Linked DNA regions of Homo sapiens: region 2 is linked to region 1. Evidence: fine-mapped QTL for protein levels in blood plasma. Region 1 holds a variant in brackets. A gene starts in the other region. All regions are shown on their forward strands.

Region 1 (5,374 bases):
AGAGCAGCCCAGTTCACAGGGCCCAGGACACCCCCTCGTGGTCTCAGATGCCCCTGCAGCGAGGTTTGTGTCTGGGCTCACATTGACTTCCCCTCACTGTGTCTCTTGCACAGTAATACACAGCCGTGTCCTCGGCTCTCAGACTGTTCATTTGCAGATACAGCGTGTTCTTGGCGTTGTCTCTGGAGATGGTGAATCGGCCCTTCACGGAGTCCGCGTAGCTTGTGCTACTCCCATCACTATTAATACGTGAGACCCACACCAGCCCCTTCCCTGGAGCTTGGCGGACCCAGTGCATCCAGTAGCTACTGAAGGTGAATCCAGAGGCTGCACAGGAGAGTCTCAGGGACCCCCCAGGCTGAACTAAGCCTCCCCCGGACTCCACCAGCTGCACCTCACACTGGACACCTGCAAACACAGAGACACCCTGGTCAGAAACTGCCACACACATCCACTGCTTATCTCACTCATGTCCATTCACACTCCATATCTCCAGTTCTCCATGAATCACCTTTTAAAATAGCAACAAGGAAAACCCAGCTCAGCCCAAACTCCATGGTGAGTTCTCTGTGTGCAGTCCTGATCAGCAAGCAGAAACAGCTGGGAATCCCAGGGCTGGGGCTCCTCTCCCAGAGCTGCAGGGCTGGTTTTCTTCAGCAGAGTGAGGGCCCTATTTGCATGTCTCCTACTATATATCAAGCTCTGGGGTGAGACACCTGAAGAAAGAGCAGGACCCAGGGCAGATGAAAGTGTCCTGAGGAAGATGGGTGACAACAATGGGATTTGAGAAATTGTGCTTATTATGAAACTGTGCTGTGATAAAATCTTCACACTGATCACCTTATTTCAGATTTACCTATGTGTGTAAATTATGTTCTGTAAGAGTCAATGTTCTCTACTTACAGATGTAAGATAAATCCACACATGGATGGGCTCTCTGTGTATCTAAGAGCTCATGTCTGGGATGAGTGAGTTCTGGTATCTGGGCCTGCACTTCTCACCACTGGCCCTGACTCCTCCCTTAGCCAACTCCAGGACACAGCCGGCCAGGCCTAGTGTGGTTTGCAGAAGCCACTGCCTAATCAGAATATGGATGATTTTCCTGCACTCTCCTGTTTACCTTAAACTATGGAGAGAACTAGGGTTCAGGTAGATAAACTTTCAGGTATCTCTGACATTCAACATACTCATATCTATCTTTCTGTCACTCCTACATTGTCTAATTTTCAACTTGTTTCCTCATAATACATTTTATAAGATTTGATTGACAGATTATAAACTTTACATATTTAAAGTGTAAAACTGATAATCATGGCATAACTATTACCATTATAAGGAAGGTGGACAAGTGAAATTCCCTCAACTTCTTTTCTGTCCTTCTACTTCCTATTTCTATTTCCTTATCCTTTCTCCTTCCCTTCTGCCAACATATTCCCAGGAAACTACTAATCTTCTTTATATTACTTTAGATCAGTTTTCATTTTCCAGAATTTTTAAAAATAGAATCATACATACTCTTATTTGTTTGGCTTATTTTACTCAATTTAAATACTTGATAATTTTATCTTCTTATTTTGTGTATCAGACATTCCCTTATTATGAATGATGGGTAATATTCCAGCGAACAATGTTACCATGATTTGTTTTTCTATTAGGCAGCTGATAAATATTTGGATTCTTTTATTATTTTTGGTGTTAATAAAAATTTTGTTATTCAGGTTTGAAATGTACATAGATGAGAATTTCTTTTTTTTACAACAAGAATAAAATCAACAATAACTGTTAATCAGAGAAAATGGACTTTTGCAAATTTTCTTTAATACTTCAGATCATTGAAATTTTAAGACAATCAACAAATCTGAAATCTAGAGAGAGACAAGTTTTTGTAGGGAGAATCAAAGCTAGAGTATGAGCTGAACTGGGGCAGAGTTCACCAAATGCAATAAAGGCTAGTACAAGATAAAATACACTAATATACATTGAACTGTTTTGAGTCGAGTGTGATAAGCATGTTTTTAGTGAGAAATTCTCAGGAACCACATACTGGAGAGTTTTTCTATTCTTTTGAATGCCTTTCCCTTATAATGAGAATAGTCACAAAAATCTTCCCTTCCCAAAGTGTCTGTCTGGGGTGTATCAGAGCCCACACTTCTGAAATGCTTCCAGAGCCAAGTCTCTTACACCCACTAGAGAACTAAGAAATTACTCAACAGGGGCAAACCACCAAAACCAGTATCCTAAATGCACTGGTTTAACCCCTCAGGAACTGAGATGGGAACAGAGCTCCCCAGCAAGGTTCTACTGGGAAGCAGCTCCCCTCTCTTA[C/T]GGAATCAGAGCCTTAGTCTGCAGAGCAGGGCAGCAGAGCTGGAAGGTGATGACACCGATGGAGAACACTGCAGCTGTGGGAGGGAACGCCAGGGAAACAGGGGGCTCCACTCCGGGGGAAGGGGAGCTGCGGAGCAAGGCAGAAAGGAGCCCCCATGTCAAACTTCGGGGTTCCAGGGAGGGAAGTGGAAGTGGCGCCTCCTTGAAAACCCGGGCAGCGGAGCAGCCGCTGTGCCCACCCCGCCTAGGGTGCGGGGTTCCTGGGCCTTGGGAGGTTCTGTGCAGGCTGCTTGGGCCGCGTCCCCAGGGTTCAGCCGCATGTCAGGGTGACCATGGAGGCCGCCACTCCCGACTACGGGCCGGGGTCGTCATCAGCTCTGCCCGGGCCTCCCTGAGCACCGGGGCAATGCGGGGAGCTTGTGGAGATGTCACTCCTGCCCTGGACGCCGGCCAGGGCCCAGAGAGGATCAGGAGCCCCTGCCCAGGCTGCAAGGAGGGGTGGAGGGGCTGATGCTCCTCGGAGCCGGTGGGAGCCAGGAGCAGGCAGCAGCTCTCATCTCTCAGGTGCGGCTCCAGCTGCGCAAACCAGGGCAGTGGGCTCGGACTCTGTGCTCTTGGAGGTCGAGGAACAGGAAGGAGCCCTGCCTCCCCGGCTGTGGCTGCAGCCTCCCAAACTGCGGCTGAAGACACGGGCCTCTCGCTCCATGAAGCCGGCAGAAGCCCTGCTCCGCAAACCGGGGGCTGCGGCCTCAGGCGCCCCTGCACTCTTGGGGTCCCCAGGAAAAGCCCTGTGCTCTTGCATGCTCCGAAGTGCCTGCTCCCACTTCCTGGCTTCTTCCTGCTGCTGGTGCCTGCTCTGATCTTGGAGCAAAGTCAGGGCGGAGCCCCAGGGACCATGAACTACAACAGGAGGCAGGAAGATTCCTGTGCACAGGGGCGGGTCCCCAGGAAGGGCCTGAAGGCTGGGCCGGGGCTCCCAGATCCTCAGACCAGAGTCGGGACTTGTGGTGCTTCCTACGGCCCACCCATGAGCACCCATGGACCAATGGGCTTGCACTTCCTCCCCTCGGAGGTCCGTAAAAACCCCTGGCCTCAGCTGGAGCAGGACAGAGGATGGAGAGACGACAGGACGACCAGCTGCAGGGAGGAGCTACCCTCTCTCCTGAGAAATGGGAAGACCACAGGACGACCAGCTGCAGGGAGGAGCTACCCTCTCTCCTGAGAACTGGGAAGACCACAGGACGACCGGCTGCAGGGAGGAGCTACCCTCTCTGCTTAGAGCTGAACACTCAACCAGTCTACCTGCCTACAGAGAGGAGCTACTCACTGGGGGTCTCCTCTGAGATGCTCTAATGCTTAATGAAGCTAGGCTTTGTCTTGCTTACCCTCCACATGGCTGCATACTTCATTCTTTCCACATGTAGGACAAGAACTCAGGCAAAAGTGCCACTGGCCACAGAGGGTTCTGGCCAGAAAAAGCAACACCCCAGTGACTCAGAAACAACCGTAGTGAATACTGTTGGCCATGGAAACATAGTAGTAATTATTTGTGTATCTAAACATAAAGAGATATAGATAAGTAAGGAAGTATAGCACCGTGGAACCACCATCTGTTACTGGCAGAAACTTTGTTATGCAGCAAATAACTGGATTTAAATTTCTGGGGGGAAAAAGCAGCCAACCAAGAACCTAAAATTGATAAAACATCTCTTATGAAATGAAGGATAGAGAAATACTTCCCAGACAAAGGAAAACTGAGGAAATTCATCATCACTAGAATTACCTCACAAGAAATGTCAAAGGATCTCAACTAGGTACCCAGTAGATTGAAGCTCCTGTTTCAGCCCCACCCTGGCATCTACCATGTGATTGTTCTGTGTAGATTTGGTTTATGCTGTCTTAGGGTTTTTCCTCTCTTGAGTCATATCTCCCTTCCCCTCCTTATTTTCAGTCTATCACCACAATTCATATTTAGCCAAGAACAGCGGAGCCTTTGGAAGAGATTCCTATCTTTCCTTCACCAGGTCTAATGAGCTCTCTTCATGGGTGTCCATCTCTGTTTTGCTTTCTCGCATTCCCGTGGGATGATGGCCTTGTTCCTATTTCAGCCCTGCCCACATTTTCATATACATGAGCCATCCTACAACCGCCCATCCAGGAACATCTGGAGGGAATGGACCTTACCACATGCCTCATCAGCGTCCATGTGCATGGTGATCATTCCTTCAGCTTTCACACATGCTCTAGGGCTTCCCACTCAAAAGTGCCTTTCACCACCCTCCAAAACTGCAGCTCTTACACCCTCAATAACTCCGAGAGAGATTCACCTTTCTGCTCCTCTGTAACATAACACCGTGAACTGTTCCCCAGTCTCACTAAATCTATACACAAGTCACCTTGTCTTTATTTGAAGCACTTTGTGGATGGGTTCTTACACATCATGGTTCATCTTGCAGTGTTTTGTGTAGGTAAAGGTGGCAGTGAAGTCAACTGGCAGTCACACAACACCTGACTCTTGAGCCCACAGGAGCACTGACCATAACAATGGAAAATAATTAAAATATGCTGAAAATATGCTATATAACTCTGAGTGCTTAAAGAAACTGTGAACAAAAACAACAAATAAAAAGTGAGGATCATATGCAGAAAATATCTACAGAAAGGTTGTAACTGTAGTTGTGCTCATTTTATCAACAGGGTGATTTCTGAGCAACACATGAAGCTTCCAATGTGGAATCATTTTTACTGACATAACATAAAGCAACAAAATATCAGTTTTGCGGGGTGATTAGAACAAGGGAGTGACTTGTAGTATTTGAGGTAAAAAGGTAAACAGATCCTACACAACACTGGATCTTATGGCATTGTTTCCATTTAGTGTGGAATGCACAATTCAGTAGCTCTTTATCTCAACATGATTTATTTATCAGGACTCTTCTTACTATCATTGAATTATATATTATTTGAAGGAAAATAAATATTCAGGTGACAATTATTGTTTCTATAGTTCATGTCCAATTTCAATTATTTATGTTTTATGGATATTTCT
Region 2 (5,373 bases), not on the chromosome of region 1:
ACCTTAGAATATTCATACAGTCTTCTTGGTGAAAGTGAATAACAGTTCTAATTGCATCCTCATTTTTGGAACTGTTCTCTTAGGTATATTATGCTGATGAGCTAGGAAGCACTGGGGGCCAAGGAGACAGATAATTCTTTCCAGAAGTATAGTTCTGTGGGTCCCCTTTCCTGTTTTGCCAAGGTCCAGTGTAATTTATTCATTTGCCTATATTGTTTTTTTAACTTACTTTTAATTTGTGATTCTTACTGATAATAAAATTGGATAACTATATTTATTTATTTATGCAACAAATATTTATTGAGTGCCTATTATGTGCCAAGCACTTTTCTAGATACGCGGATATTAGGGAATCAAACAGATAAACCCCTGCCCTCACAGAGCTTACCTTCTAGTAAGGTAAGCTCTAACTGGGGGATGCTTTTGTGGAATTTGGTAGTTTTCAAACTGGAGTTTTCATTTCTTATGACCAAAGTCTCCCTACTCCAATCCAAGCATTTTATTGTTACCAAATTCACTTTATAAAAGTAGAAAATGTATCATGTAATATCCACCTAGAAAAAAAAATCAATTGATGCCTCCATATTGCCTTATAAATAAAATCCTTATTTCTCTCTATGGCATTCAAGTTGTGATTTGATGCTGAATTACTTGTTTGGCATCTGCCCCAAATTAGGGATCTGTATCCATCCTGAGAAGCCTTATGCTTTCTCTTTTATTGCAAAATGGACATTTCAGGACACCAAAAGATGTAAACTTGTTACAGAAATTCACCATATGTTCATTCCCTATAAATACTCAAAAGATACTAGCTCTTCCCCGTGTTACTGTCAGTCCTTTGCTAGAAGTTGCCTACTCTGTAATGCTGAGCTCTAATTGTTTGCTCAGCTTGGGGACCTATACAGAACAGGTGTGGAGTAGGAGAAGGAAAGCCCAACTATGGGGTGGATTTCCAGGTCATCTGCTCTAGTACCTGAAAAGGGCTCCTGGTTTTCATTACTTTTTCTGCTGAAAGCAGCCGATTCTCTAAACAATAGTTGTGGCTATTATATATGTTTCCATTTCTTCTCTAGGCCAGAAATGTGGATATTTTTATGCATATCTTACTGTAAGCACATCATATTTTAAGCATATCTTACTTTTGGCATATCTTACTGTAACAGTCACAGTCTAGGTAGGAAACAGGAGGTGCACTGTAAGTGATTTTACTGAAAAGAATGTAATGAAGAGACAATTTCAGAGGTATTAACTGGGTTAAGAGAACTAGGGGAGGCCGGGCGTGGTGGCTCGTGCCTGTAATCCCAGCACTTTGGGAGGCCGAGGTGGGCGGATCACTTGAGGCCAGGAGTTCCAGACCAGCCTGGCCAACATGCCAAAACCCTGCCTCTACTAAAAATACAAAAGATTAGCCAGGCGTTGTGGTGCACACCTGTAATCCCAGCTACTCGGGAGGCTGAGGCACGAGAATCACTGGAACCTGGGAGGCAGAAGTTGCAGTGAGCCAAAAGGAACTAGGGGAAGCCATCACACTCTAGGCCTGAAGGGACACTGGAAACAAATTGTTTTATTAGAGACCCATGAGAGCTGAGGCCATGGAAAAGAGGCCTCTACACAGGCCCTGTAGTCATAGAGGGACAGGACTGTGGCCAAAATTTTGGGTTAAAGGAAAGAAGAATACTCTGATATTTCTCTCCTCCCTTCTTTTGATTTTCTGCCAGTGCTTCCCATTGGTCAATCACAACAGGAAGCCACAGGTCAAAGGGGCCTAGTGATTTATCTGTAGGCATCCAAAGGCACGGCTTGGTAGAGAAGTAGAAACGATAGATTTGGGGAGGGAAACAGAAAATACTGCTGTTATAAATATTCTCTAGACCACAGGAAGTTAAAAAAAATTACTAGATTACAGGACAATTAAAAAATTCCCATAAATCTACCTTTCTAATACCACTTCCTTCTTATTCCCACATTTAACCTGCTGAGTGTTATCTCTGCCTAGCACTGGGGTGGGTAAACTTTTCCTGTAAAGCATATTTTAGACTTTGAGGCTTAAGAGGCAAGGTCGAAAATATTATGTCCTATTTATGTAGTGATTTGAAATGTAATTATTTGAACATATAAAAAACAGTCATTCAAATTCAGTGGCGTAGATTTGGCCTGTGGGCTATACTTTGCTACCCTCTGGCCTTGAAAGTCTTCTAAATTTTTGCTAGCCTAAAATCCACCTACTTTTCAATGTCAAGTTCAAATAAAACCTCCCCTACGTGGCCTCTCATACTGGGACTCTGAGCTGTGAGTGACAGAAAATCAACTATTACTAGCTTAAGCAAAACTGAGGATAAGTTGAGAGTTTGCGGGTTGTAGATCCCAGAATCCAGGAGTTGCTGAAATGCCAGCTGCTCTGGGGATATCCTGCTTTGCTACTGTGGTAACATCAGAACATGCCCTCTTCATCTCCCTTTCTCTTCTCTTTGCTTCTGTCTTCAGTTTGGCCTCATCATCTCCTAGAGGCAGATCTTTTCCACAAGAAACAGAATATGTAACTCTTTATGTACCCAGGAAAGTATTCTGTTTGACCTGTCTTGGTCACCCAGCCACCCTTCGATGAACCCATGTCGGTGGAGGAAGGGGGAAGAGTGATGGGGTAGTCTCGAGGTTCAGACATGGCACACGTTTGGGAGAGAAGCTCACCTCTGAGGAGTGGGGAAAGAGGCAGTTTCCCAAAAGGAGGATGCATTCTGTTGCCAGGAGATGAAACAGGAGAGGTTGTCTATTTTAGAGAGATAGAAATGTCACAATTACAATCCAATGTGTGCAGCGCTATAACAGAGATAAGTCTGACGCCTCGTTATCACCCACAGTACCTAACATCACACTTGGTAGACACATTCATGCGATTTTGATGAATGAATGACTCAGTTCTCCCAGCTGATTGTGTACACACTCTACTCCAAACTGGCCCAGAATTTTATCAGCTGCTCTTCATTCTGTACGTTGTATTTGGGGTTTTTATGGCCATCTACCATCTCTCCTCTAATTCCGGGTGCAAAAAGAGTGTATGAGAGAGAGGCAAGCATGCAGTAAACATCCTGTGTTAATCTCAATCCCAGAACCAGACCACAGAATGCTGACTACACCGCTCACGGGAAAGACTATGTTTTAGGTGACCCGTGTGGCCTTTTTGTTGAGGCCTTTAGGATACAAGGCCCCCACCTAAAGACGCGACCCTCCCGTAGGAGGGGGGCAGGGCCCGGGGGCGGGAGCACAGCGGGGCCCCAGCCTCAGGCGGCGCGTCACTGAGCACAAAGGAGACAACAGCGAGGCGGCAGCGGGCGCTGATCTTCGCTCGCCAGCCACTCGCAATTGCGGTTACAGACCTGCAGCTCCCCCTCCCCCAGCCGGCCCGCCCGCCTTTCTGTCTCCTCTCTCCCTCCGTACTGGACGGCCCCGGTCCATTTCCGGGCTCCGGATATTTGGTATCGATTGGGGCCGGGGACGCGGAGCAGGTGGCCGCGGCGGGGCAGCTGGGCCGCCAGCTTGGTGCCTCGGGGACCGTCTCCCGCTGCTTTGGTCACCAGCCCCTGCCCGCCCGACCCGCTCCGTTCTCCGGCCTGCGAGCCCTGCCGGCCGGACTTTGCGCCGCGTCCGGCGCTGCTGCTGCGCTCGGGGCCCCGCTCGGCGCCGGCGGTGACCGGGAAGCCCGCGTTAAAGGGGCAACCGGGACCCTGGCCCGGTATGGCTGAAGTCAGCATCGACCAGTCCAAGCTGCCTGGAGTCAAGGAAGGTAAGGGCCCCGGAGGGAGAGCGCGCGGGACCCTCCCCTCTCCCAGCCCGAGGTTCTCTCAGGTCAGGGGCGTTGCCATTTCGGCTCCCGCGGCCCTCGCCCGGTGCCCGCCCTGCGTTGGCCTTGCCCGGACGTGAAAGGAATTGAATTCAGGTTCTAGTGTGGGACGTTGGGCAAGTCTCCGACGTTCCAAGCCCGTTTTTTCTCAAGGGGGTGGTTGGGGGGGGGGGGGGCTAGCAGCAGCCCCAGCAAGTAGGTGGCTGTGCCCGTGTTCTCGTGCATCGCAAAGCCTCAGTGGACGCTGAGAGCCGGGTGAATCTGACTTACTCCGCTTCTAAAAAATCGAGGCCCAGCCTGGCTGGCTTGAAGGCTGGGAAGTGGAGAGGGGTTGACATTCAGTTCCGTGTGGAGCCTTTGTTTTGAAACATGACTCTTTCCCTCCTTCTCTCCCTACTTTTCCTAGGCCGGCGTCTGGCTGGCTGACTTTCCCACCTTCCTCAAGGTTTAAAAGTTTAGTCTTGGCTGTGTTCTGCGCGGGCGGGAAGCCACTATAAGCATTTTCTTACAAACAAAACACACACACACACACACACACACACACACACAATAGTGAGCGAGGGGAACAGGGGACTGATGGCCTTGTCATTGCTTTTTGTACCAATGTCCAGGAAAGTAGAGATTAGTACTGACCTGGCTTTAGCTGACAGCAAGTAGCCTTTTGACTTCCCTTCTCTTGTTTTTCCACTAGCTGCCTCAGGACCTAGCTTTTTTTTGCTGAGATCTTAGGTGCTGGATCGCCTTATGCCTTGAGTTATCTTTGTTTATTCTTTGGTCCTAGGAAGCATAGACGTTCCAGAGTGCTGACGCAGACCCCTAAGTTCCAAGGGCTTTGCAAAATCGGCTTCTGTTGTGAATGTCATTTGTATCGATTGAATACTGTAGCCTGAGGCGTCTTGGAGATGTGGAATTGAAAATAGTTTTTGCTTTCTTGGAACCGCTTGTTTTATTGCCAACTTAATTTGACTCCGTTGGTCTTGTGTGTGCTCAGGCCAGCCCAAAAATCTCAGGAAAATGAGGGACTGCTTGATTGCTTTCTCAGAGTTTCAAGCACTAGGAGACTAGTGACTAGTGGTCACTGATTTTATGTAGAATTTCTGATGGGCCTAGTTCTGTCTTACTGTTCCGGAAGGGTGTTAAAGCTTAGGCGTGAGATTTTAGCGTTAATACTTTTCTACCTTTCCGTCCCTGGTATGGCTTTGATGAAGACTTAGGGCTTTCACCTGTAGAAAACAGTTTTCACTCTGCTGTCAAGACTAAGGAGGCTGAGCGATAGGAAAGGCGGATCCATACTTTTGAGAGTTCTTATCTTAGAGATTGTCTGGTTATCCTTTACTTTTGGATATGAGGGTTTTTTGTGTGGGTATGTGTTGGGTTTGTCTCTAGAGAAAGAGTGATCCTTGTGCAGTGTGTAGTGCATGGTGAGTAGAATGAGAATTGGAGTTCAAACAAAACCTGGTATGTATAGTATTAATCATATGGTGCTATGATTTTATCCAATCCCCTATTCATGTGAGTGAAAAAACATAAAACTC

Alleles and levels. Alleles are on the strand shown, and positions count from the first base shown. The strength of an association depends on the size of the effect and on how common the allele is.
For the plasma level of the protein whose gene starts at base 3,452 in region 2, C is the high allele of the variant in region 1 and T is the other (strong association).

Evidence for each region. PIP is the chance, under the fine-mapping model, that this variant and not a neighbour inherited with it causes the effect. The UK Biobank Pharma Proteomics Project read protein levels with antibody pairs (Olink). The fine-mapping took linkage between variants from a reference panel, not from the people measured, so its PIPs are less certain.
Region 2: CCDC50 starts here. The variant in region 1 is fine-mapped to the plasma level of the CCDC50 protein (UK Biobank, PIP above 0.99).

Annotation. Positions count from the first base shown.
Region 1 is chr14:106,810,339-106,815,712 of GRCh38, forward strand. It overlaps IGH and IGHV3-74. Among named protein-coding and RNA genes, the nearest start is that of MIR5195, 38 kb to the right of the region's middle. The variant C/T (reference allele first, on the strand shown) is at 2,326.
Region 2 is chr3:191,325,943-191,331,315 of GRCh38, forward strand. CCDC50 (coiled-coil domain containing 50) reads left to right here and starts at 3,452. Exons shown (of 12, transcript NM_178335.3): 1 at 3,452-3,781. The coding sequence starts at 3,733. UTS2B (urotensin 2B) reads right to left here and starts at 4,584. Exons shown (of 9, transcript NM_198152.5): 1 at 4,472-4,584; 2 at 2,689-2,767. RefSeq lists enhancers at 3,019-3,620, 3,621-4,221 and silencers at 3,148-3,227, 3,328-3,607.